Regions from separate parts of the Homo sapiens genome. Here regions 1, 2, 3, 5 and 6 are each reported to be linked to region 4. The links are microRNA targets in miRTarBase. Many come from high-throughput screens and were not tested one by one. Region 4 holds a microRNA gene; each other region holds the end of a gene's coding sequence.
The links. Region 4 holds the annotated microRNA hsa-miR-10b-5p (UACCCUGUAGAACCGAAUUUGUG, at 1,415-1,437, shown strand). A microRNA usually pairs through its seed, bases 2 to 8, with sites in the 3' UTR of a target mRNA and lowers its output. Matches are read on the target gene's strand: a 7mer-m8 pairs with bases 2 to 8, a 7mer-A1 pairs with bases 2 to 7 and ends in A, and an 8mer does both.

Region 1: miRTarBase lists ZNF574 as a target of hsa-miR-10b-5p. The part of its 3' UTR that is shown has no 7-base or 8-base seed match.
Region 2: miRTarBase lists DLAT as a target of hsa-miR-10b-5p. The part of its 3' UTR that is shown has no 7-base or 8-base seed match.
Region 3: the mRNA of CHMP1B is a reported target of hsa-miR-10b-5p. Seed matches in the 3' UTR shown: 7mer-m8 at 1,931-1,937.
Region 5: miRTarBase lists PPP1R13B as a target of hsa-miR-10b-5p. The part of its 3' UTR that is shown has no 7-base or 8-base seed match.
Region 6: the mRNA of TSPAN33 is a reported target of hsa-miR-10b-5p. Seed matches in the 3' UTR shown: 8mer at 1,342-1,349.

What each region holds. Positions count from the first base shown.
Region 1 is chr19:42,081,025-42,085,111 of GRCh38, reverse strand. ZNF574 (zinc finger protein 574) reads right to left here. Exons shown (of 2, transcript NM_022752.6): 2 at 3,560-4,087. The coding sequence ends at 3,815. Among named protein-coding and RNA genes, the nearest start is that of ZNF574, 6.9 kb to the right of the region's middle.
Region 2 is chr11:112,061,904-112,065,990 of GRCh38, forward strand. It overlaps DLAT (dihydrolipoamide S-acetyltransferase), which reads left to right. Exons shown (of 14, transcript NM_001931.5): 14 at 503-2,501. The coding sequence ends at 632. It also overlaps a transcript of PIH1D2 not described here. Among named protein-coding and RNA genes, the nearest start is that of PIH1D2, 10 kb to the right of the region's middle.
Region 3 is chr18:11,851,873-11,855,948 of GRCh38, reverse strand. CHMP1B (charged multivesicular body protein 1B) reads right to left here. Exons shown (of 1, transcript NM_020412.5): 1 at 1,505-4,076. The coding sequence ends at 3,838. The region is part of intron 5 of GNAL (G protein subunit alpha L); the gene reads right to left. Among named protein-coding and RNA genes, the nearest start is that of CHMP1B, 2.5 kb to the right of the region's middle. RefSeq lists a silencer at 3,825-4,076.
Region 4 is chr2:176,148,915-176,153,001 of GRCh38, forward strand. It overlaps MIR10B (microRNA 10b), which reads left to right and starts at 1,389; the gene lies at 1,389-1,498. It overlaps HOXD4 (homeobox D4), which reads left to right and starts at 2,636. Exons shown (of 2, transcript NM_014621.3): 1 at 2,636-3,152; 2 at 3,694-4,087. The coding sequence starts at 2,720. The coding sequence ends at 4,028. It also overlaps a transcript of HOXD3 not described here. RefSeq lists an enhancer at 2,355-3,088.
Region 5 is chr14:103,731,744-103,735,821 of GRCh38, forward strand. It overlaps PPP1R13B (protein phosphatase 1 regulatory subunit 13B), which reads right to left. Exons shown (of 17, transcript NM_015316.3): 17 at 1,452-3,452. The coding sequence ends at 3,411. It overlaps ZFYVE21 (zinc finger FYVE-type containing 21), which reads left to right. Exons shown (of 7, transcript NM_024071.4): 6 at 877-1,019; 7 at 1,240-1,921. The coding sequence ends at 1,275. Among named protein-coding and RNA genes, the nearest start is that of ZFYVE21, 18 kb to the left of the region's middle.
Region 6 is chr7:129,167,419-129,171,505 of GRCh38, forward strand. It overlaps TSPAN33 (tetraspanin 33), which reads left to right. Exons shown (of 8, transcript NM_178562.5): 7 at 1-142; 8 at 355-2,281. The coding sequence ends at 456. Among named protein-coding and RNA genes, the nearest start is that of SMO, 19 kb to the right of the region's middle. RefSeq lists a silencer at 1,769-1,988 and enhancers at 2,359-2,408, 2,478-3,347.

The DNA.
Region 1 (4,087 bases), not on the chromosome of region 4:
CACGCCTGTAACCCAGCTACTCGGGAGGCTGAGGCTGGAGAATAGCTTGAATCCGGGAGGTGGAAGCTGTAGTGAGCTGAGGTCGTGTCACTGCACTCCAGACCAGGCGACAGAGCGAGACTCCATCTCAAAAAAAAAAAAAAAAAAGTCCGGGTGCAGTGGCTCAGGCCTGTAATCCCAGCACTTTGGGAGGCCGAGGCGGGTGGATTACGAGGTCAGGAGATCAAGACCATCCTGGCTAACACGGTGAAACCCCGTCTCTACCAAAAATACAAAAAATTAGCTGGGCATGGTGGCAGGCGCCTGTGGTCCCAGCTACTCAGGAGGCTGAGGCAGGAGAATGGCATGAACCCAGAGTCAGAGCTTGCAGTGAGCTGAGAATGTGCCACTGCACTCCAGCCTGGGCGACAGAGCGAGACTCCGTCTCAAAAACAAACAAACAAAAAAAACAGGCTATGTGTGGTGGCTCATGCCTGTAACCCTAGAATTTAGGAGGCCAAGGCAGGAAGAACCCTTGAGCCCAGGAGCTCGACACCAGCCTGGGCAACACAGTGAGACCCCATCTCTACAAAAATTGAACAAAATTGGGCCAGGTATGGTGGCTCACGCCTGGAATCCCAGCACTTTGGGAGGCCAAGGCAGGTGGATCATTATAATGGTCAGGACTTCGAGACCAGCCTGGCCAGTATGGTGAAACCGTCTGTACTAAAAATACAAAAATTAGCTGGGCGTGGTGGTGTACGCCTGTAGTCCCAGCTACTTGGGAGGCTGCGGCAGAAGAATCACTTGAACCTGGGAGGTGGAGGTTGCAGTGAGCCAAGATTGTGCCACTGCACTCCAGCCTGGGTGACAGAGCAAGACTCCATCTCAGGAAAAAAAAAAGCTGTTGCGTTTCCTCAGCACTGTTCCATCCTCTAATGTATGCTTGGCACACAGGTGCTGGGATCCTGCAAAGTCGATAGTGAGGGTTGGGGGAACTGAGGCACAGGAAAAAGGAATAGAGTGAAAGACAGGTTTCATATTTAGTAAGACAAAAAGTGTCAGCATTGCAGTGTTTTGGCAAGACAAAGAAAGCAAAGCCCCTCAACTCTCAAAACAAATCAACAGGGATGGGACATAAAAATAGTACATGGAGGAAGATCATTTGGTTCAGGCCCATCTTCAAGGTGGCACAGTCAGAACCAAACAGAACCCAAGACGCCATCTCTACAAAATAAAGTAGCCAGACGTGGTGGTGCTCGCCTGTCGTTCCAGCTACTTGGGAGGCTGAGGCAGGAGGATCACAGGATCACTTGAGCCTAGGAGGTTGAGGCTGCAGTGAGCTGTGATTGTGCAACTGCATTCCAGCCTGGGTGACAGAGCGAGACTCTGAAAAATAGAAAAAAACAGGCCAGGTGTGGTGCCTCATGCCTCTCATCCCAGCACTTTGGGAGGCCAAAATGGGATGATCCCTAGAGGCCAGGAGTTTGAGACCAGCCTGGCCAACACAGCAAGACCCCATTTTTAATAAAAAGATAAAAATAAAACCTAACACAGGAACAGAAAACCAAACACCACATGTTCTCACTCTTAAGTGGAAGCCGAACAATGAGAACATGTGGACACAGGGAGGGGAGCATCACACACCAGGACCTGTCAGAGGGTGAGGGGCTAGGGAGGGATAGCATTAGGAGAAATACCTAATGCAGATGACAGGTTGATGGGTACAGCAAACTACCATGGCATGTGTATACCTATGTAACAAACCTGCATGTTCTGCACATGTGCCCTAGAACTTAATTAAAAAGAATACTCCAAATCCTAGGATTTGGAACTATATATATGTATATAAACATTAAAATGTATGTTTGTATGTCTATAGAGTAAAACAAACTATAAAAAAATCTTTATATACATATATATTATTTACTGTATCTATTGTGTAATTTATATACATATAACAGGTAGGATACACACATACACACACACGCACATAACCTGATTTTTTTTTTGTATAAACAGAACCCTAATACATTAACTTTTCAAATGTTATGTCATTTATTTTACAAGAACAATTATTAGAATTTGTTTTAGGCCAGACGCGGTGGCTCATGCCTGTAATCCCAGCACTTTGGGAGGCTGAGGCAGGTAGATCACCTGAGGTCAGGAGTTCAAGACCAGCCCGACCAACATGGTGAAACCCTGTCTCTACTAAAAATACAAAAAACTAGCCTGGCATGGTGGTGCGCAGCTCTAATCCCAGCTACCTGGGAGGGTGAGGCAGAATTGCTTGAACCCAGGAGGCGGAGGTTGCAGTGAGCCGAGATCGTGCCATTGCACTCCAGCCTGGGTGATACAGTGAGACCCTGTCTTAAAAAAGGAGTTCTTTCAGGCCGGGCACAGTGGCTCATGCCTATAATTCCAGCACTTTGGGAGGCTGAGGTGGGCAGATCACCTGAGGTCAGGAGTTTGAGACCAGCCTGGCCAACATGGTGAAACCCCGTCTCTACTGAAAATACAAAAACGTAGCCGGGTGTGGTGGCACGCGCCTATAATCCCAGCTACTCGGGAGGCTGAGGCAGGAGAAACGCTTGAACCTGGGAGGTGGAGGCTGCAGTGAGCCGAGATCACACCACTGCACTCCAGCCTGGGCGGCAAAGACTCCAACTCAAAAATAAAAAGGAAAAAGAGTTCAACAGAAAGATCTGGAATAATCTTTGGGGGGGGGGGTCTCAGAAGCAAGGCTAGCACAGCAGCCTAGCATCCCACCAGTCACATACTCCCATCTTGTCTCTACCACCCTCCCCAAAGTATGCAGAAGGCAACAGAGTAGAGAGAAAAGCATATCGGTGATTAAACCAAATGAAATGAAATCAGGCTTAAATTCAAGCTCTGCCCTGCCTGGATTGAATGTGACCTTGGGCAAGTCATCTCAATGCTTTTGACTGGAGATTCCTTCCCTGCAAAATGTTCTCACGTAATCAGTGTGAATATTATTCAGTTATATAGTACTTGAGACTGACTAGATGTTCAAACATTAGCCAGCCATCCCAACAATCCATCACTCACAATAAAAATCTGTTGGCTGAGCCAAAGTCCAACTCCAGGGGAATTCAAGTCACCACCTCTCATGAATCTTCCTACATCCAGACACATATTATTCAGAATCTCCTTTAATTCCACAGCTCTAGAGATCATGCCTACCTGCATTTGCTCTTGGGGATCAATGAGAAAATCAGATGGCCTTGGGAGACAAGGTCCACATCAGGCCAGGAGTCAGGGACAGGAGTGTAAAAATCTGATTTCTCTGAAAGTTCCTGCCACCAGTACAAACACTCTTGAGCTTTTCCACAGAGCCATGGGACCTCTAGTGGCAAGAGAGCCATGCTACCTCCATCTAGCAGTGAAGTGAAGGCCCTGCTATGAGAGCCATGCCCATGAACACCAGGTCATTCTCTTCAGCCCAGCAAATGTTTACTGAGCTCCTACTACCCCTAATACCTGCCAGGCCCACTTCTGGGTGTTGGTGATGCAGCCACGAGAGGTAAGACCCATGACTCCCAAATTCCACTCTACACACTGCTGGCAACTCAGTCTTTATTGATGGTTTCATTTTTGGGGTCACCAGTGCTAAGAGGTGGAAGGTGGGGGGGCACCTTTATGTGTGTCAAGGACCCCAGAGCACCCCCCTCACGAGAGAATAAATCCAATTTAGAACTTACAAGGTGGTGGGGATGGGAAGAGGAAGGGACACAGTATGTACAGATGCTTAAGGGGATGCTGGAGGGCCTTCAGCAACAGGGAATGGAGGTGCCAAAGAGGAAGTCGGGCAGAGTCAGCCACTGATCTGGACCCCCTCAGCCTCGGCCAGAGGGTAGATCTCAATGGCTTCCACCAGGGGTAGCGCCTCCACAGCAGTCTCCATGACGGCCAGGCCAACGGCAGCCTCCGCCTCTGCCAGCTGCTGCCGCACAGCTGCCTGATGCTGCTGCTGATGGGTCTTGCGGTGCTTCCAGAGGTTGGAGAAGGAGCGGTAGCTCTTGCCACAGTCAGGGCAGGAGTAGGGTCGTTCGCCTGTGTGGATGCGGCGATGTTCTGCCAGGCGCAT
Region 2 (4,087 bases), not on the chromosome of region 4:
GTTATTGGCATGCTATATTGTATCTTCAAATAAAATTATATATATATAAAAAATACGAAATTCTTCAAGGCAGCAACTTTACTAAATGCAGTTAGTCCTATTTGAGGTGGAAAGCCTTATTTATTCTAGGTGAGGAGTCAGCATGCTTTTTTTTAGTTGTATAGTAAGTATTTTAGGCTTTCTGGGACATATGGCTGCTGTTGCAAATAATCTGCCATTGTAGTATGAAGGGAGGCATAAACAAGACAAATGAATTGCAGTAAATCTTTACCTAATAAAAACAGGCAGAGGACAGGATTTGGCCCATTGCCCACCCATACTCCAGGTATCTGGTCTGTTTCTTCAAGCTATAAATTTGAGCTAAAGGTATAGGAGACTGGAAGAGTAGATAGGAAGTATTACCTGGTTGGGATTATAGGGTAGGAGTGAGCATTTGGGTGGTTACTGGCTGAAATGCAGTATTTTCTTTCAGAATATCTAAAATGTCTTTATCTTTTTCTAGGTTTGATGTGGCTAGCATGATGTCTGTTACACTCAGTTGTGATCACCGGGTGGTGGATGGAGCAGTTGGAGCCCAGTGGCTTGCTGAGTTTAGAAAGTACCTTGAAAAACCTATCACTATGTTGTTGTAACTAACTCAAGAATTTCTAAACTCTCCCAGGTCACACTGATTCATTCTTAACAAGATATTTATATGTTATTAAACAGGTGGTTCTTTTTATTTTAACCAGTTATTTTTATTATTGAGTCTGTCCAGATAAGTTATTTATAATGGGCATTACTGAATTTTTAAAATGCCGATTACACCCAAATATTGTGCACATTTAATAATCAGACACCAGATTTTTAGCTCTGTACTCCTAATTAAGGGACATGTATGTGGCCTTGCCTAGCCCTTTGGTGATAAGTACTTCCTCTAGGAAATGTACGATAGGTAGAATTGTGGTTCCCTAAAGACAAGTACATAAAGGTGACCCTGATGAAACCTTGAAGTTCTGAAATTTAACTGCCTAAAATGTTCTCCTTAGATGTGAGAGAAAGAGAAATCAGAAAAATTAATTCTCTTGGGGGAAGGGCTTGAATTGAAGCTTTACTTTAGAATTTAGCCCTGGTTTGAAATTTTCCATTACATGATCTTGGTTTATCATCGATGGGAAGGGTAGAAAACTTCAAGGAAAATAAGTGAAATTTTAAAAGTCAGCATTTTCTTAGACCTCTTCAGCTGATTGTTTATTTTTCTATGAATTCCTACACATGGTTATTCCCCCCTACTTGAGATAATCTAAATATAAACCAGCTACTTGATGTAACTGAGAATTTGTGTGGATATTTATTTAAACAAATGTGTAATTTTGAGTACAGAATTCAACAGTTACCTCCAAAAAAGAAACATTGTTAATATAATTTAACAGAAGTTGTGAAACTAAAATTTTCTAAGATTAACTGGTAGTTCATTGTAAATGAACATAATGAACAGAATTTATGACTCCACTGTGGAAAATGCTATCAAATAACTAAGGAATATATATGGAATAAGTGTACATATGTAAAATATTGTTACTAGAGTTAGATATGTGCCAAAGTCCATTTATCCCAAATCCTGTCTGAAAAGGAGGGGTACATTGGTAAACATTTTGGAGTGCTTAAAAATGCCAAAAACAAAATGGTAATTTCTACTTTGATAAAGTAAAAAAGTTAAATGTGTGTAAAAAAGTGTTCTGTGTCCTTCTACTCCAGCATCGTCTCATGTAAAATAAGAAAGCCCTAAAATACTATTGGAGAGAAAAAATTAACTAGGTTGCTACTTTATTTGCCTAAATACTTTTTTCTATTTTGTTAGATTTTGCCTTTCTTTTGGAAGGAAGGAGGCGATATTCTGGATTATAAAAATGAATTGGGAACATTATCACAATTCCAGACTTTCTATTAATATTTATGTGTTTTAATAAACGTTTGAAATTATTTATGACTACTTAAAATGAATCTGACCAGTGCTTCCTGGTATATGTAATATGTGGAGTTAGCCCCTGAAATTTGCTTTAAGTGTTTCAGTGTTGAATCTGTTTCTAAATATTCATTATTACATGGTACACAAGTGACACTCCATATATTCCACACAGACTTTTACCTTGCTGTATTATTATGAAAACAATACATTAATTTGATTTTTCAGTAATTAGTAATTTTAGGTTGAAGATTATCCAAAAGAAACAAGCTTATCACAAGGGACCATCATCAATATGATCCAAATCTGGTTCAAACATTCAAAACTTCAAAGATAATTCATCTTTCGCTAATGCTTGTGGTTCTGTTGTTCCCTTGAAAAAAAATAAAAACAGTTGCCTTCTAATAAACATTGTTGAGTTAAAAATTAATCTGAGCTATAATCTAAATCGATTCAGTCTCTTACCAGAACTGAAAGAAAAAAGTTAGAAATAGTGTTTTTGGTTCATATGATTATTTAAAAATTAAAGTATAAATCTTCAATATGTCTGGTTTAATTTTTGGTCTGTTGGTAATTATTTTCACATTTAAATTATTTAGATCTAGGGACAGCCATGTATGTATAAGCTCTCAATACAGATAAATTTTGAGTTTATATAATTGGCAAAATATGGACTACATTTAGGAGAATATAATCTAACACTTTTAAGCTCAAAGAGTTCCTGAAGCACCCCATGTTGGGGTGTGGCACTTATTATCAAGATGGAAAGTGTGGTCTGGTTCTGTTAGGTGATTTATTCCCAATTCTGAAGCTTGTGATTGTGAAGTTAGGGTATCCCAAGGCATGGTCTAGAAAGGAGTAAACCAGCACATTAGAGAGATAGGAGGAATGTTCATCATGTGTAATGCACAAGTCCTGGAATACATGGGGAAATCATCATCACTACTGGTAAGTGATCTAAAAATGAAGTCTGTAGAAAAATCTGGTCTCCAAATTTTTTTTTTTTTTTTTTTTGAGATGGAGTCTGTGTCGCCCAGGCTGGAGTCCAGTGGCACAATATCAGCTCACTGCAACCTCTGCCTTCTGGGTACAAGTGATTCTCCTGCCTCAGTCTCCTGAGTAGCTGAGATTACAGGTGCCTGCCACCACGCCCAGCTAATTTTTTGTATTTTTATTAGAGACAGGGTTTCACCGTGTTAGCCAGGATGGTCTCTATCTCCTGACCTTGTGATCTGCCCACCTCAGCCTCCCAAAGGGCTGGGATTACAGCTGAGCCACCACGCCCAGCCTCCAAATTTCTAATTTTGAGAAAAAGAAATCTCAGTAAGATTCCAATTTAAACCAGTCCATAGTTCATTATTAGTTAATGCCCTTACTGGGCCCCATTTTGTTTTTTGTAGGGAGGGGAAGATAGAGCTGTTTTTATTAATACAAAATGAGTGAGAATATTTTGGAAAATAACTAGAATGTAAATTTTACCACTTTAAGTATATTAGGTCTTGATGTGCATTTTAATGAGTATACAAACACAGATACTGATGAAAATAGCATCTAAGTGCTGAGTGCAAGGGTAGAGATTCAATTCTATGTGGTTAGGAGTTTTTAGGAAATACATTTTGGTAGTGATTTTGTAGGAGTAAAGATAAGGTGAAGGCACTCAGTTTTTTTGAGGGGTGAGAATAGGTTTGTTAATTTTAGGACATGATACAGTTCCAGAAATTTTTCAGGAGATAAATTATCCTGTTGCTAGTAGAATTTAAATCCAGGCCAGGCCTTCAAAAAGGAGATTTGAGGCAAGGAAAAAAAAACAAAAATCCAGACCAGGCTTAAGAAAATTATATTTGCTTTTAGGCTAGGCCCAGTGGCTCACGCCTGTAATCCCAACACGTTGGGAGGCCGAGGCGGGCAGATCACTTGAGGTCAGGAGTTTAAGACCAGCCTGGCCAACATGATGAGACCCAGTCTCTACTGAAAATGCAAAATTTAGCTGGGTGTGGTGGCAGTCGCCTGTAATCCCAGCTACTGGGGAGGCTGAGGCAGGAGAATCACTTGAACCTCGGGATGGGGCAGGGGTAGGGGGCAGAGGTTGCAGTGAGCCAAGATCGCGCCACTGCACTCCAGCCTGGGTGACCGAGCGAGACT
Region 3 (4,076 bases), not on the chromosome of region 4:
CCAGGCTGGAGTGCAATGGCGCGATCTCGGCTCACCGCAACCTCCACCTCCCGGGTTTAAGCAATTCTCCTGCCTCAGCCTCCCAAGTAGCTGGGATTACAGGCATGTGCCACCATGCCCGGCTAATTTTGTATTTTTAGTAGAGACGGGGTTTCTTCATGTTGGTCAGGCTGGTCTCGAACTTCCAACCTCAGATGATCTGCCTGCCTCGGCCTCCCAAAGTGTTGGGATTACAGGCGTGAGCCACTGCACCTGGCCCAGCAGTCTTTTCCAAATCAAAGACAGCAGGGCGGGCACACAGTGTCCAAACCTCATGGTCTGCCTGTATTTAAAAGGCATCTAGATACATTGGCATTCCTTCAGCAAGAAACAGCTTTAGTAAGAAAATTCCCCAGCAGCACACACAGTATCATCTGGGTTCCTGAACTGAAATAAACTAAAAGTAGAGGAAAGTATTTTGTGAATTAATCCAGTCTACCTTTTTTCTTTCAATCCTAAATCCATGTTAGAAATTGTGCACTTGAAGGCGGAAAAATGAAAGGAAGAAATATAACTAGTAGTTAAATGGAAGATTAACTAGTTAACTAGTTCCCTGATGTGTTTCAGTTGGATACTTTTGTAAATTATATCCATCTTTGGTGTAGGGAAGTTTCAATGTGAAAAAAAATCTTGTAGTTATGAAGAAACAATTACAGTGAAGAAGCCAGGGGACCGGGCGCGGTGGCTCACGCCTGTAATCCCAGCACTTTGGGAGGCCGAGGCAGGCGGATCACTTGAGGGTCAGGAGTCCGAGACAAGCCTGGCCAACATGGTGAAACCCCGACTCTACTAAAACAACAACAACAACAACAAAAACAAAAATTAGCCAGGTGTGTTGGTGCGCATCTGTAGTCCCAGCTACTCAGGGGGCTGAGGCAGGAGGATCGCTAGAACCTGGGAGGTGGAGGCAGCAGTGAGCCGAGATCGTGGTGGCACTTCAGCCTGGGCGACAGTGAGACTCCGTCTCAAAACAGCAACAACAAAAATAAGCCAGGGATCCTAGAAATATGCAAGAAAAAGCCATACTAACCAAACAAAAATTTAAGTGCTAAGACTGAGGGTGAATTTGGAAAAATATCATGCTTTCTGACCCAAATCTACCTCAGAATTTTTTTTTTTCCTTTTTTTGAGACTGAGTTTCATCCTTGTTGCGCAGGCTAGAGTGCAATGGCGCAATCTTGGCTCACCTCAACCTCCGCCTCCCAGGTTCAAGCAATTCTCCTGCCTCAGCCTCCTGAGTAGCTGAGATTACAGGTGTGCAGCACCACGCCCAGCTAATTTCATATTTTTAGTAGAGGCGGGGTTTCTCCATGTTGGTCAGGCTAGTCTCAAACTCCTGACCTCAGGTGATCTGCCCACCTCAGCCTCCCAAAGTGCTGGGATTACAGGCGTGAGCCACTGTGCCCCGCAATTCTTTTTTCTTAAGTGTTTTTTAAAACAGGATGCACACTCACATCCAATAACATGCAGTTTAAAATGATTTAATTGACAAATTCTTGTGATTTACATTTCAGTAATCAACTGCAAAAGTGAGGAAGTAATTCATGGGCCTGTAGTGCTTTTGAAAATAATATTTATGACTCATAAAAATGTACATTCATAATAGTATGACATGGACATATTTTAAGAAAGTTCAAGCATATACAAGCATTGTTTAATCTCACAAAATATATTAATTTTGTTGGGAATATGTGCATTATAAAAGGGTCTTTAGTTTACCAAAGGGTTCAACACTAAGCTATTTTTAAAGTTGTAATTATTTTTTCCAATCTAAAGAGGGGTTAAGGCCAGGTGCAGTGGCTCATGCCTGTAATCCCAGCACTTTGGGAGGCTGAGGTGGGCGGATCACCTGAGGTCAGGAGTTCAAGACCAGCCTGGCCAACATAGTGAAACCCTGTCTCTACTAAAAATACAAAAAAACTAGCTGGGCATGGTGGTGCACACCTGTAATTCCAGCTACTCGGCAGGCTGAGGCAGGAGAATCACTTGAACCCGGGAGGTGGAGGTTGCAGTGAGCAGAGATCGCGCCACAGCACTCCAGCCTGGGCAACAGAGCGAGACTCTGTCTCAAAAATAAAATAAAAGAGGGGTTAAGACTCATGCTGTCTTCACACATGGCCCTGCACAACCATGTGGAGGACAGGAGGGATATTCTTGAGAGATGCTGGGCAGACAACTAACAAGTGTCCCTTAAAGCACACTTCTGAACAATGTCCAGTCAAATATAAAATAACTTAAATATGAGGGTCACTCCTCATCTGCACGCACCTGTTACACTTTTTTTTTCCTTACTCATTTACACTGGGAAACATGTTATAATAGTGAATAGTTGGTTATGAATCTTTCAAAGAACTTGGAAGGGCCCCTATAATTATTTTCTGAAACAATGGAATTCTCTTATGGAAAAATCTTCCAGTGAAGGAAAGGGTAAGTTAAAAAAAACTTGAATTAACTTAGGTTAGCATGCTTGCCAAGGCAAAAGCAAGTTGCTTTTCTCCATGTTTCGAGGCTATGAGAAAGCGGTGGATACATGCTTTACTTTTCAGCCAGAAAATACGCACTGCCATTCCTGAGAAGATGGCAGGCAGCACAGCTGGGCTCTAGCCTTAAAGACTCAAGCTTTCTCCTTCCTTCCAGTCCTACCTCTTTACTTCTCAGATTTCCAGCTGGCTGGATGTATACATAAATGACTTGCATGGCTAAGTAAAACATTCCAGCTTATATTTTCAAGGATTTCCAAGAGTTCTTGCTTTTGGACAAATTAATAAATGCAAATTAGAACTTAAAACGCAGTTCTAATTTTATTTCTATTTTTGGTTGTTAAAATCAAAACAAAACCTACACACACACAGTCCTAGGGTTTTCTCAAACGAAATCAACAGTTCTTTGGCAATGTTAAGAGTGTGTAACATGACTGCCATGCTAATTAGCATAATTTATAAGACTTCTAATAGTGTTGAAACAGGAAAATAACTATAAACTTGTTAGAGAAGTTCGTTTGAAAGACACTGTCAAATGTCACACTAAGTCTTTTTAAAAACTCAATTTAGTAAGTAGAAAATATAAATGAACAAATTTAATTTTTCCAGATAATAAAGGAAGTTATTCGGCATTTTTCCCAGTTACGCAAAGACAATTATCACGTGAAAAATTTATAGAATGTAAGCAGTAAGAGAGTATTATGCAAAAATATCCTAAGGTAATTTCAGTATAAATTATAGGACCACATTTATTAATAATATACGTTATGAGAACAATCATTTGCAGTCTCACTGTGAAGGCAAAAAAAAAAAAAACAAAAACCAAAACCCAAAGGATAAACAGAAATAGCACAGTCCACCGAATACACTGCATGGTGTTTATAACTGTATAACCAAACTAAGTAATCTTTCCCCTCTCTTTAACTTTTATGCACCACCTGCCATTCTAGATACTATCAATCACACTAAATAATAATAAAAACCAACCACCTTCAATCTGATCATTCTGGGCAGGAAACTGAATACAGTTTTGACCAGATCTTCGAGAAAGATTCATATACACGAAATTAACTAGTTCTGTTAAAAGGCTGCTATAAAAATACCATCATTACGAGCTATACAGAACTTTAGAATCCAGCTAAGAGTGCAGAAATACTGAATTTCTTAATTTATGTGGAGGGGGCTGTAAACCCAAAGGTAGAAGGGCATTTCAGCATTCTGGCGTGTTCAGAGTTTCTAGGGTATAGTATCTCTCTAACACACAGAGAGCATTTCAAAGGGTGGCTATGGCCAGGAAACCTCAGAGCGGGTTCTGCCGTCACACTTGATCCCGAAGGCGGGCCAGTCTCTGAGACAGTTCATCCTGCTCCGCCGAAGCCACGCTCGTGCCCACGGAGCCGGTCTGGCCCTGCGGCAGCTCCATGTTGAGGTCGAGGCCCGCCTCATCTGCCATTTCCTGGAGCAGCATATCCACTTGGTTCTGGGGAGTGGTGAGCGTCGTCGTGCTGCTCATCGTGTCTTCCATTTGCTGCGTCTGGACGTCCAGAGTCTCAAACT
Region 4 (4,087 bases):
ACATTCAGCGCCCTGTAGCTGAACACAGCACAAAAAGCCCTAGAGATCAAAAGCATTAGTATGGGCAGTTGAGCGGGAGGTGAATATTTAACGCTTTTGTTCATCAATAACTCGTTGGCTTTGACCTGTCTGAACAAGTCGAGCAATAAGGTGAAATGCAGGTCACAGCGTCTAACAAATATGAAAATGTGTATATTCACCCCGGTCTCCAGCCGGCTCAGCAGGCTCCCCCAATTTGTCTGGATAGAGCCTAGGCCCAGTGTCCCAGGAAGGTGGATACTTGGGAGTCTTTGGCATTCAGGGAAATTGGGGGGACTCTCCTGGGATAAACAGATTCTGCAGCCTCATAGCCCTTGTTAGAACTGGCGCCCCCAAAATCCCTACGAAACAGGTAAAGTGGTGGAAGCAAAGGATGGGGGGATGAGCAAAGTGCCAGGCTTGGAGGGGGAGTATCCCTGCCCCACCCCACCAGGCCCAGGCCCAGGCTTGAAACTAAATTTTGAATTATGTGGGAGGTAGGAAGGGCAATCAAGACAGTTAAAAAAAAATCTAACACCTTCAGCCTACAGTTAGGCACCCAAAAGCCCCACTCGAGCCAGGGCATCCCTGTGCCCCTGAAATCCATCGAGGCTCTGAGTGAGTCTGCGCTCTCCATGCCCTGAACTGAGGGACAAGCACTGCACAGTGCCGAGGCGCTGGGGCGGGTGAAATTTGTGAACTTTTGTACTCTTGTGTGCTGCTGTCGGCAAAGCAAAAATAATGAAAGTTTGTGATATGTTTGTAAATGATTTCGAATGACCCCTCGCCCTGCCCTTCACCATTAGCGCGCCGGCCTCAGCCCAAGGCGGCTCGGTGCCTGTGAGCAGCGCCTGCCTCGGGGTCTGCAGCAGCAGCGGAACGGAGAGGCCAGCCCGGATCAGGGCCCATGAAGGTAAATGCGCGACTTCTTGGAGAAGTAGCTTTGGCAGACAACCTGGCTTGGTCGGGCAGTAGGAAAAGGAGTAGACACAGGATATTCCCCTCTCGCTTCTTTTTCTTCTGCCGCTGAGGGCATTTGTTCCTTTCTGGAAAATACCACTTGGTAAGGAGGAGGGTTATTTGGATCCTGGTGGGGGAGGGTGGTTAATAAAGCCGCCATCCTTGGGATGGATTATTTTTCTTTCTTTCTTTCTTTTTTTCTTTCTTAAGAAGAATATTCTGGTTGTTCGCCTGCTTGGTAACCCTGACCCTGGCAGAAGAATGAGGGAACTCATTGCTTCAAATTGTCGCCAAGCCCATTAGGCTACCTGAACTGTCTCAGAAAGTGCGGGTGGCTGCGTCGAACGGTGGTGGCTCAGAGGAAGAGATTGGGGCCGGCAGCGACCTAGGTACCTCACTCTGGGTGGGACCCAGAGGTTGTAACGTTGTCTATATATACCCTGTAGAACCGAATTTGTGTGGTATCCGTATAGTCACAGATTCGATTCTAGGGGAATATATGGTCGATGCAAAAACTTCACGTTTCTTCGGAATAGCCAGAGACCAAAGTGCGACATGGAGACTAGAAGCAGCCGGCGCTGGTCAGCCGCCTCGTTCTGTTTTATTACCTTGGACTCCAGGAGGATCAGCTGCGCCTGGTGACATAGAGCAGCTTTTCCTCTCCAGAAGCTCCTCACCTTTAAACAGAGTATCCTCTGGGTGCTGAAAAGAAAGAAAGACAGAAAGAGAGAAAGAGAGAGAGAGAGAGAAAGAGAGAATGCAAGCCTAATTGGTTGCATGGATGCAGGGCCAAAGGGCTAGGTTTTGGGGTACTAGGGAGTGAGGTACAAGGCCAGCTTGCCCAGTCCCAGCTCTGCCCTCCAGGAACATGAGGTGCAAAGGTACCCAAATGGGGGCTTGCTTGTATTTGGGGCCTGTGGGAAGAAAGCAAGCTTCAAAGAAGCCCAGTGGGGAGCTCTAGGGTGCATTTTGACAAGGTGGAGGTGCCCTTGCCACCATCCCAGCCCACCCCCAGCTACATGGGCAAGGGCAGCGAGGGCCCCCTGCTATTTTGGCAGGGCCCAGCTTTGGCTGGGAACCCCCGGGCCTGGGCACTGGTAGAAAGCATGGCGGTTACTCATTGCCTAATTTGATTCAAGCTGGCCAGATTCTGGTAACTTTTGGGTGACCCTGATGAAGACAAAGCCAGGACGGCGGCCTTTGTATGGCAGAATCCCTGCTCCCGCCGGCTGCAGGCAGGGCGGGCAGGCAGGAACCCTCCTCGCCTGGGGCACTCTGCCCAACTCAGAGGCGAGTTCACCCACCCACCTTTCATTGCTCTGTACCCCAATAGGAGGATTCATTCTCCCTTGAGCTGTGCCTACTTGGTGTCGGGGGGCGGGGGTTGCATTCAGCTGGGGGTGAGTGGAAGGGCCACGGAAGGTTGGCAAAATCAGTGGCAGACAAAAGCTGGGATTACCTGAGGGGAATGGGGTGCTGGGGACTGGAACTACATTAATATCTGGCAGGGGCTCTCAAATGTGCCATAGCAAGCTACTTGATTACACGTATGTTATTTAGTTAAATTTGTGAAAATTATGAGATGCTCACCAACCCGGTGATAAACTTGCTCCCTCGCCATTGGCTGGCCTGGTCACATGGCTGCCCAACTTTATTCAGTTGACAGCAAGTAGGAGGGCCCTATGGAAGGAGAAAAAAAGACAACACGAGAAAAATTAGTATTTTCTACCTTCTGAAATTAATGGTCATGAGTTCGTATATGGTGAACTCCAAGTATGTGGACCCCAAGTTCCCTCCGTGCGAGGAGTATTTGCAGGGCGGCTACCTAGGCGAGCAGGGCGCCGACTACTACGGCGGCGGCGCGCAGGGCGCAGACTTCCAGCCCCCGGGGCTCTACCCACGGCCCGACTTCGGTGAGCAGCCTTTCGGAGGCAGCGGCCCCGGGCCTGGCTCGGCGCTGCCTGCGCGGGGTCACGGACAAGAGCCAGGCGGCCCCGGCGGTCACTACGCCGCTCCAGGAGAGCCTTGCCCAGCTCCCCCGGCGCCTCCGCCGGCGCCCCTGCCTGGCGCCCGGGCCTACAGTCAGTCCGACCCCAAGCAGCCGCCCTCCGGGACGGCACTCAAGCAGCCGGCCGTGGTCTACCCCTGGATGAAGAAGGTGCACGTGAATTCGGGTAAGGCTAGGGTCCAGTAACCTTTCTGTCCACATCCCAGCCCGTTAGCCTGGGTCCTCTGGAAGGGGGTGCGAGTAGGTGGGGGCGTGTGGAGCTTCCATGGGCGCCGCAATTACTCTCCCCATAAATTTTTATAGCTGAGGGAGCAGGTCAGGACCATGTGGCTGGCTGCTCGGCTGTGGGCGCAAAAGGGGGTGGGGATGGGGGGGTGGGGGAGGACTCCATTTTCAGAGCAGGGGGAAGGCTGTGGAGGAGCGGGGGATTTCCAAAATGCTTGAGGGTTCCGGACCTGGTGGTGGGCCCAGAAGAAGGAGCACATTTGGGGATCCCGCAAGCCTGGGGTATGTGGGTGTGTTTGAGGAGGTGGGTGGGAGTGAGCGTGTGCGCCGGGGAGAGGGCGGGAGGGAGGAAGCAAGCGAGCTTGGGAGCGCGCGGGGAGGGCCGCGGGCCTCGGGGCGCGCCAGGAAGTGAGCGGCGGAGGCGAGGGGCCTAACTAGTGGCCGGGCGCTGACCTGCCTGTCCTGTCTGTTTTGTCTCGCAGTGAACCCCAACTACACCGGTGGGGAACCCAAGCGGTCCCGAACGGCCTACACCCGGCAGCAAGTCCTAGAACTGGAAAAAGAATTTCATTTTAACAGGTATCTGACAAGGCGCCGTCGGATTGAAATCGCTCACACCCTGTGTCTGTCGGAGCGCCAGATCAAGATCTGGTTCCAGAACCGGAGGATGAAGTGGAAAAAAGATCATAAGCTGCCCAACACTAAAGGCAGGTCATCGTCCTCATCTTCCTCCTCATCTTGCTCCTCCTCAGTCGCCCCCAGCCAGCATTTACAGCCGATGGCCAAAGACCACCACACGGACCTGACGACCTTATAGAAGTGGGGACCCTGGGCCCATCTCTCCCTGCGCACCAGGCTGAGCCGAAGCTGCGGGGG
Region 5 (4,078 bases), not on the chromosome of region 4:
GAGTGCTGATGGGGGGATGTGTGTCTGATGGAGGGGTCTCCTGAGAGGTCAGTGATTGCCTACGATGGGGCTTCCCTCCCAAGTCATCAAGTTCATGGGAGGCTGCATCCCATGGGTCTCTTTCAACACCAGCCCTGACTGAAGAGCTGCTCTCTTCAGCAGTGTATTGTTGGAGCGAGTGCTGGAATTGAGTCATTGTCACTGGAACAGCTGGTCACCGCCCAAAGACGGGGAGCCTGGGTCCCAGAGACCAGTCCCCAACATGGGTGCTGGGTCTGGGGAGATGGCCCGTGACCAGGCTGGGGTGGCATTTCCCTGACACTGGGCCTTTGTAGTGACAATCCCCTCTGTGCTGACGCCGCTTCTCAACGGTGGGATGGCTGAGGCCTCTGACTCCTGGGTGAGGCCAGCTGTGTCCCTGACCATCTGCTTGGCCTGTCAGTGGCCAGGGCACTCTCGAGGTGGCCTCCACTCTTCCCCCAGCCCTGGGTGCAGGTGGGCACCTCTGCAGGAGCCAGTCTTGTCTGGAGGTTCTCTGAAGGCAGGAACCCCCACAGGCCCCAGGGCATAGCAGCGCCTCAATTAGCCGAGAGCAAGGCCTCTCGTGGTGATGTGGCTCTTGTTGTTTGTCCCGGGCCCTGGGGCACCCGGCTGAGTGTCTTGGTCCCTCTCCCACCCCACCTGTGAGCTTGGGGTCTCCCCTCAGAGGCCTGAGGAGATGGTGTTCCCTGGGTGCTCCTGAGCACCAGCCCTCACTGCCAGGCTACTCTTGGAGCAGCACAAGGTTAGGATGTGCTGGCCACCGCCTTGGGGCTGGTGGCCGCCTGGGCACTCAGGGCCTCCTTTGGGCCGTCTTACCTCGTCTCTCTCCTCCAGGAGGCAACGCACGGGCCACAGGCATGTTCCTGCAGTATACAGTGCCGGGGACGGAGGGTGTGACCCAGCTGAAGCTGACAGTGGTGGAGGACGTGACTGTGGGCAGGAGGCAGGCGGTGGCGTGGCTAGTGGCCATGCACAAGGTACCTGAGCCCAGGCCAGGGAGGCTGGGCCCTTTGGCTTAGACAAAAGCTTGCCTTTCCCAGAGGAAGCTCTGTGTCCTGCCATTTGCCCCCTATCCCCACAACCTGTTCCCCCTCAGCTGGGGTGCCCACGCCATCTCCCCTGAAATGCACACAGGCTTGGCTCCACCAGGCACAGGACCAAGCAGGCCTCACTGTGTTGATCTTGTCTGATCTGCAGGCTGCCAAGCTCCTCTATGAATCTCGGGACCAGTAACTCTACGTGGGGCTGAGCTTGGAGTACGTGTGGTCACCAGGACTGAGTCGCTTGGAACAGCAGAGCCTGCTCCTTGCGTACCACAGGGATTAATCCTGCTTGTGCTGGGAAATGCAACTCACTCATGTATTTGGAGAAACAGGAGTGTTCACTTATCTAGTGCAATATGTTCACAGTTTATTAATGCTTTAAACAGCTTCATGTTTTAGAATTTGTGTATTGTCAATACTTAATTGGGGGTGGGAGAGACTGAGCTACACTACTGCTAAACTATTTTTAGCATAATATATACCATTTTTATGAGTTCGCAGGTCTACTAGAAGGTTCTGGCCCATCAATATTCATTTCATTTAATTCTTCCACAGAACCAGTTTGGGCAGTAGGAACTCAGGCTTCTGGTCTGCAGTGGAGCCTGTTCGCCTCTAATAGCCAGTTTACAGCACTTGCCTTAGCCTGTTTCACAGACTTGTCCACTTACCTTGTCACTAATTTGGGGCTTCTGGGCTGTGAGTGATCCTTTGATACTTCACCAAGGGGAACGTGGGGGCTTTGTGTTTTGTACTTTTCACTCACTATTTCACTTTATTAAGATGACTGTACAGCAATTTGTATATAAAGCTTATGATTAAAAACTATTTTGAACATACGGACAAGGCCTCGCCTTCCTGTGTCCAGATCACCTGAACCCTCGTGCCACAGCGCAGTCTGGGTCCAGAAAGAAGACTCACAGCCGCCGGGGTGAGACGGGTTTATTGTGCACATTTACACAGCGTCAGCAGCGTCTGGGCTGGCAGCGGCCATGCTCCTGTGGTCGGGCTGCTCTACAAGGGCGTTCACTTTTCTTCACCACACTATGTACAGTCAGTGCTCCAAGGTGATGGGCTACAGTGCTGCATCAGTGAGTCTGTACACACATTTTTACATAAATTACACACGACTCATACATGAAAAATAGAGCCTAAGGGCCTGTATTTTAATGAGAAAAAAAAAATTTCCAACATAGTTCGGGTAGCTTTGAATGGTCTAGTCAAAAAATACTTTTGGTATATAAAAAGCCTGTACGTACAATTCACACCTCAGTGAAGCGCCCTCCTTGCCTTGAGGCTGGGCCTGGGACAAAGGTGGCCTCACAGCCAGCCCAGGCAGGGAGATCGGCAGAGAGGGGTGGCCCCTGACCCCAGCTCCTCTGCCCCAGCTGCTGCTCCTTGGTGGCGGCCCCTCCTGACACCAGGCGTCTGCCATCCTTCAGGCACCAAACAGCCCCGTCTACCTGGCCCTGGTCTGCCCTCACACCAGTCCACCCCCAGCCCCAACCCCAACCACCCTCCGCTGCCACGGCCTCCAGCACCTGACTCCATTCAGGGAACTGAATTTGAGCTTGCAGGGGTGAGAACCACACTGAGCAGCATGACAGGCTGTGAGATCGGAGGAGAAGAGTATATGCTGAGGCTCTCCCAGTTGTCACTTGGTCTTAGGGGTCCTGGTGCCCGTGGCGCGGCAGTCCAGCCACAGTGCTGGGCCTGCACAATCAGCCTTTAGGTGAACTGGAACAGGAAGCGGAACCCCCAAGGCGGCCGAGCAGAGTGGGTACTGGGAGGCATACACACTGGGCAGCAACACTGGACATGTTTCCATACAGAGGCTCCTTTGGTGATGAAGGGAAGAAGGATCATGTGTGGGAAGTGTGAGAAAGGATGAGTGTCCGATTCGGTGACGGGGGGCAGGGCGGTCGCAGGGGAGCAGGCCTCACAGCGGCGGACAGTGTTCACTGCTGGAGGGGGTGATGGCCTCGGGGCCAAGTCAGTAAGAGCTTCTGTCTTCACTGGCAACCAACCGGGGGTTATGGGACTTCTTAATGGCAAGAGGGGTGGGTGTTTTGAAAGTGGGTATTTATTTGGATTTATAGTAATTGGCAAAATTCAGTCCTTGGAGGCGAAAGTACCTCTCCCAGTTAATGGGCAAACTGGAGAAAGGGCCTCACCTGGAAACTGTAGGATTCACATTGTGGACGCTGTCTGCTAAAGTGAGCACCATTAAGACCATTTTCTAGCTGCAGCTTTCCTGGAAAACAGCACAATAATCTCTTAAGTGGCTCCTGGTAGCTGGCAAGACCATGCGGTGCTCCAAAAGGAAGTTCAGGCGAGTGTTCGCTGTCGGGGTTTGATCCGTGGATACAGCTGGGAAGCAACGGAGCCGCGTCAGGACAGGAAGCCACACACAGGGAGCAGGGCCAGCCAGACCCGACCCCTGCTCCTCACCTCAGCCACCCTGGACAGCCGTGCAGCACCCTTGTCCCTCAGGCCTACGCTCAGCTGCACCTCTACACTGAGACCCACCCAGCCCTCTTTAAAATGTGCCTTGTACCCCCAGAATATCCTATTTTTCTCACAACACTTCATGCCACCTAAAGACTTGTGACTGCCTGTGGCTCTCAAGGTCATAAGCTCCCCTGGGCAAGGGTCTCTGCCTGGCTCCCTGCTGTGTTTGCCTGGCCAAGAACGTTGGCTCAACAGCAAGCCCCTGGCAGCTCTGCAGGGCACAAAGAGAGCAGAGGCAGCTCCCTCTGCCAGAGGACTGAGGGAATCACAAGTCCAACACAGAGCTAGCAGCCTGCACGTTCCCACCTCTCCCTCCACTGGAGAAATTTCTAGGCTGCAGAGATTTCTAGATTGGGGAAAGTGTGGGTGGGCTGAGCCGGGCCACTTGGTGAAGTTCATCATGAACCGAGCTCATTGAGCGGCCCCTCACTGGGGCACTCAGCCTCCGCACGGGCCTCCATGGCATAAGCATGGCTGGGGGAACC
Region 6 (4,087 bases), not on the chromosome of region 4:
TGGCCAAGGTATGCAGGCCTTTGACTACTTGGAAGCTAGCAAAGTCATCTACACCAATGGCTGTATTGACAAGTTGGTCAACTGGATACACAGCAACCTATTCTTACTTGGTGGTGTGGCTCTAGGCCTGGCCATCCCCCAGGTAACTTACCCTGTGAGACTTGTTGGTCCCACACACTCTGTAAAGACTCCTTTGTTTTGGGGAAGGCACCTGGGGATCAGCGAGGGTGTCAGGCACTGACATGGCTGAGGGGTAGGGAAAGGGATAGTGCTGGCCGCACTGGGAAGATCGAGCCAGGGAAAACAAGGCCATCACTCACTGCTGAGTGCCCAATTCCTTCTTGCCTCTCCCAGCTGGTGGGAATTCTGCTGTCCCAGATCCTAGTGAATCAGATCAAAGATCAGATCAAGCTACAGCTCTACAACCAGCAGCACCGGGCTGACCCATGGTACTGAGAATCCATCCTGCACCTCCTCACCATGGAAACTGGCAAGCCTCATAAACGAACAGCAGTGGGTGCTGAAAGCAGCACCAAATGGAGATTTGGATTCCAGCCCCCCAGTGACAGCCCAGTGGGAAGAAGCAAACTCCAGATGGGCAGAAGGCAGGGTGCACAGGTGGCTCCAGTCTCAGGAGGATGCGCCTCCTCTCCCCCATCCCAGCCCTCAGCATTGTGCCAGAGTGATACCCTTAAGTGTTTGGGTTTATGTTTTCAGTTTTGTTTGGGAAACAGCAGTTGCACAGAGAGTTGGGGGTACTGCTGCTGCCTTTTCACCGAGGCACTGCCACCACCAGCTCTAGCAGGGATGCTCCTGAGCTTGGCGGACATACTTAGATCCTAACGTGCCAGTGAGACCTGGCTGTGGAGAGTAGCACTGGCAGCCCTGCCTGGACTCCACTTGGCATGATACCAGCTCCAGAAGGGAAGGGAGTGGAGCAGGCAGTGAGGAGAGAGCCTGGGGGTCGGCTGGGGACAGCCGTATGTGCTAGGTAGGAGTGGAGGGAGATATGTTTACCAAATGCCTGTCCTGCCATCCTCCCAGGTAGTCAGAGTGAGCTACATCCTGCCCCGCCTTCATTTCCATGGAAACATGGCAGCTAGGACACGGGGTACAACAGCAGCCAAATTCTTCCCCACCTCCCTTACTTCGAAAAAAAGTTTGGAACCCTGGTCCCTATACTCTGCAGTCAGAAGTGGGACTGAGCCATACATGCCCTTGAATTCCTCCCTGTCTGGCCCTCCCTCTCCAGCAAGCAGGGTTTTCTTTAACTTGGCAGTGTGCAGAGGAGAAGTGGTAACACCCCCACCCCATTCCCCTGCATCGGAGCTCAGTATTCCTACAGGGTAAGAGGTAGGAATCTTGCTGGGACGAGGGGAGCCAGAAGTGGCAATAAAAGCGTGTTGACCTGGGCTACGCGGGACTCCATGAATTTTCCATTCTGGCAACTGGAAGGGGAGGTGTAGAAGGGCCCTGCAGAGGACGGCACTGGAGACTCTCCTAAACGCCACACACCTCCCCCTTGCTGCCCGCCACACGCGCGTCTCCTTCAACCGATGCATTGCCACCCTCCCACAGCCTCGCCCTCTGCTCTAAATTAGGTCGAAAGAGTCCCAGTTCCAATCTAGGAACAGCATAATTTTGTTCCAAAACCTGATCTGTGTTTTTCTAATTAAAATTAATTTGTCACCCAAAACAGGAGGGGGATGGGGAGGAGGGACATGAGCACTCCGCTGGGGCCGGGACGGGGAATGAGGAGGAAGAAGGCCCTCTCTTCCCCTACCCGGGCCCTCCAGGACCTTCTCCCTGAGTCGGCTGTAGGGAGGACTCCGAGGAAGCTCGGCGCGGTGCGCTGGGCCTCCTGGCGCCGGGAGGAGCGCGCGAGGCAGGCGGGGCGGGCGCGTCCGGGGCGGGGCGCTGGACTTCGTGGGTGGTCCCCGCCCCCGCGGCGGCCTAGGCCCGCGCCTGCGTCCCCCAACCCGGAGGAGATGGGGGGCTGTGCTAGCTGCTTGCCCAGCGAGTGTTCCCGGAGTCTCCTCGCCGCACCCCGCTATCGGGCGCTCAGACCAGGGGCTCGGCCTGGCGGGAAATAGCCTCGACCGAACTGCTGCGGGGACAAAGAGCCGCGAGTTCGCTCCCTGCCCCCAGTGTCTCCTAAGCGAGCCTTCTGCTCCTAGGAAGGCGCCTTTCCAGCAGCCGCTGGGACCCTGGCCAGTGTTTAGCTCCCAACTAGTAACAGACGGAAAGAAAAAATAAAATTATCCAGAATCTAGAATAAAAAGTAAGGGCCTTTTATTCTGGGAGAGGACAGTTAAAAAGCGCGCTTTCTTGCTAACTTGCCTTTCTTGGTTAGTGCCAGAGACGTGCACTTTATAAACTTATTTAAGTGACACGGACCCAGAAGTCGATGTCTTGGGTTAGAGGTTGGAGTGATGCGCCCTCTGGGTTCAGCGGCTTTGAGGAGCTCACCCTGCAGCGGGCTCCGTTTGGGGCCCCTTGGAGGAAGTAAGACCAGGAACCGTGATCCTCAGAATGATTATTCAAATCTGGATTTTCAAAACTAAGAACTACACTTTCACCATCGCCTCTACTGTCTCTCAGTATCTAGCCTCCTGGGTCTGGACTAAAAGGCTGGGAACTTCTGCCCATGCCCCAGACTTTATAACGCACAGAGCAAATGTTCAGTATAGTGCAGTTCAGGGTTCCTAGCTAGATTGCAAATTGCCAATGTCTCTGATTCTCAGTCTGTAGCTTTCTTTCTCTTCGGCCTGATGCTGGGGAAGAAAATACGCGAAGTTTTATATTTCATGTTTGCTCCTTGAATTTCTACCTATTTCTAGTAACCCTCCTCCCAAACACACACTGTTACCAGACACACACTGTTACCGGGAGTCCTTCCCAAGAGAGGGTTCTTGGATCTGACACAAGAAAGAATTCAGGGCAAGTCCATAAAGTGAAAGCAAGTTTATTAGAAAAGTAAAGGAATAAAGAATGGCTACTCCATAGACAGAGCAGCCCCAAGGGCTGCTGGTTGCCCATTGTTAGGGTTATTTCTTGATGATATGCTAAACAAGGGGTGGATTATTCATGCCTCACCTTTTTAGACCATGTAAGGTAACTTCCTGACGTTGCCATGGCATTTGTAAACTGTCGTGGTGCTGATGGGAGCGTAGCAGTGAGGACGACCAGAGGTCACTCTCGTCAACATTTTGGTTGTGGTGGGTTTTGGCCGGCTTCTTTACCGCAATCTGTTTTATCAGCAAGGTATTTCTGACCTGTATCTTGTGCCGACCTCCTATCTCATCCTGTGACTTAGAATGCCTTAATCTGCTGGGAATGCAGCCCAGTAGGTCTCAGCCTTATTTTACCCAGCGCCTATTGAAGATGGAGTTGCTCTGGTTCAAATGCTTCTGACACCACTACTTTAGAATAGCTAATCAAATGTAGGCCGCAAAGGTGGTTGAATGAAAGGAGATTCTTGGGGACAGCAGAAATCAGGCTTGGTACACAGAGGTGGAGAGAAAGGCCTGAAGGATGGTGAAAACCTGCCAGGGTGGCATGCCAAGAAAGGCACCACTAAGTTCTGCGGGCCTTAAGCCCTGCAGTTAAACAAAGACTTGTGCCCAGAAGAGCAAATTTTGCAGAATGTTCAGTGAAATTCTGATTTCCTCCTATCAGGTTTTTATTGCTACTGTTACAAATTACCAGACATTTAGTAGTTTAAAGCAACACAAATTTATCTTACATTCTGGAAGTAAGAAGTCCAAAATGGGTCTCACTGAGCTAAGATCAAGGTGTGAGCAGGGCTGTATTCCTTCTTGGGGGCTTCAGGGGAGAATCCATCTTTCCTGCTCCCAGAGGCCGCGTGCATACCTTTGGGTGGTCCCTTTCTCCAACTTCTGTCATCACATCTCCTTTTTCTCTGACTCTCCTACTGCCCCCTGACAGGACCCCTGTGATTGTATTGGCCCATCTAGATTATCCAGGATGCCCTTCCCCCATGAAGATCATGAATCTCGCCACGTCTACAAAGTCCCTTTTAGTATGTAAGGAAAGAGATGCATCGGTTCTAGGGATTAGGGCATGG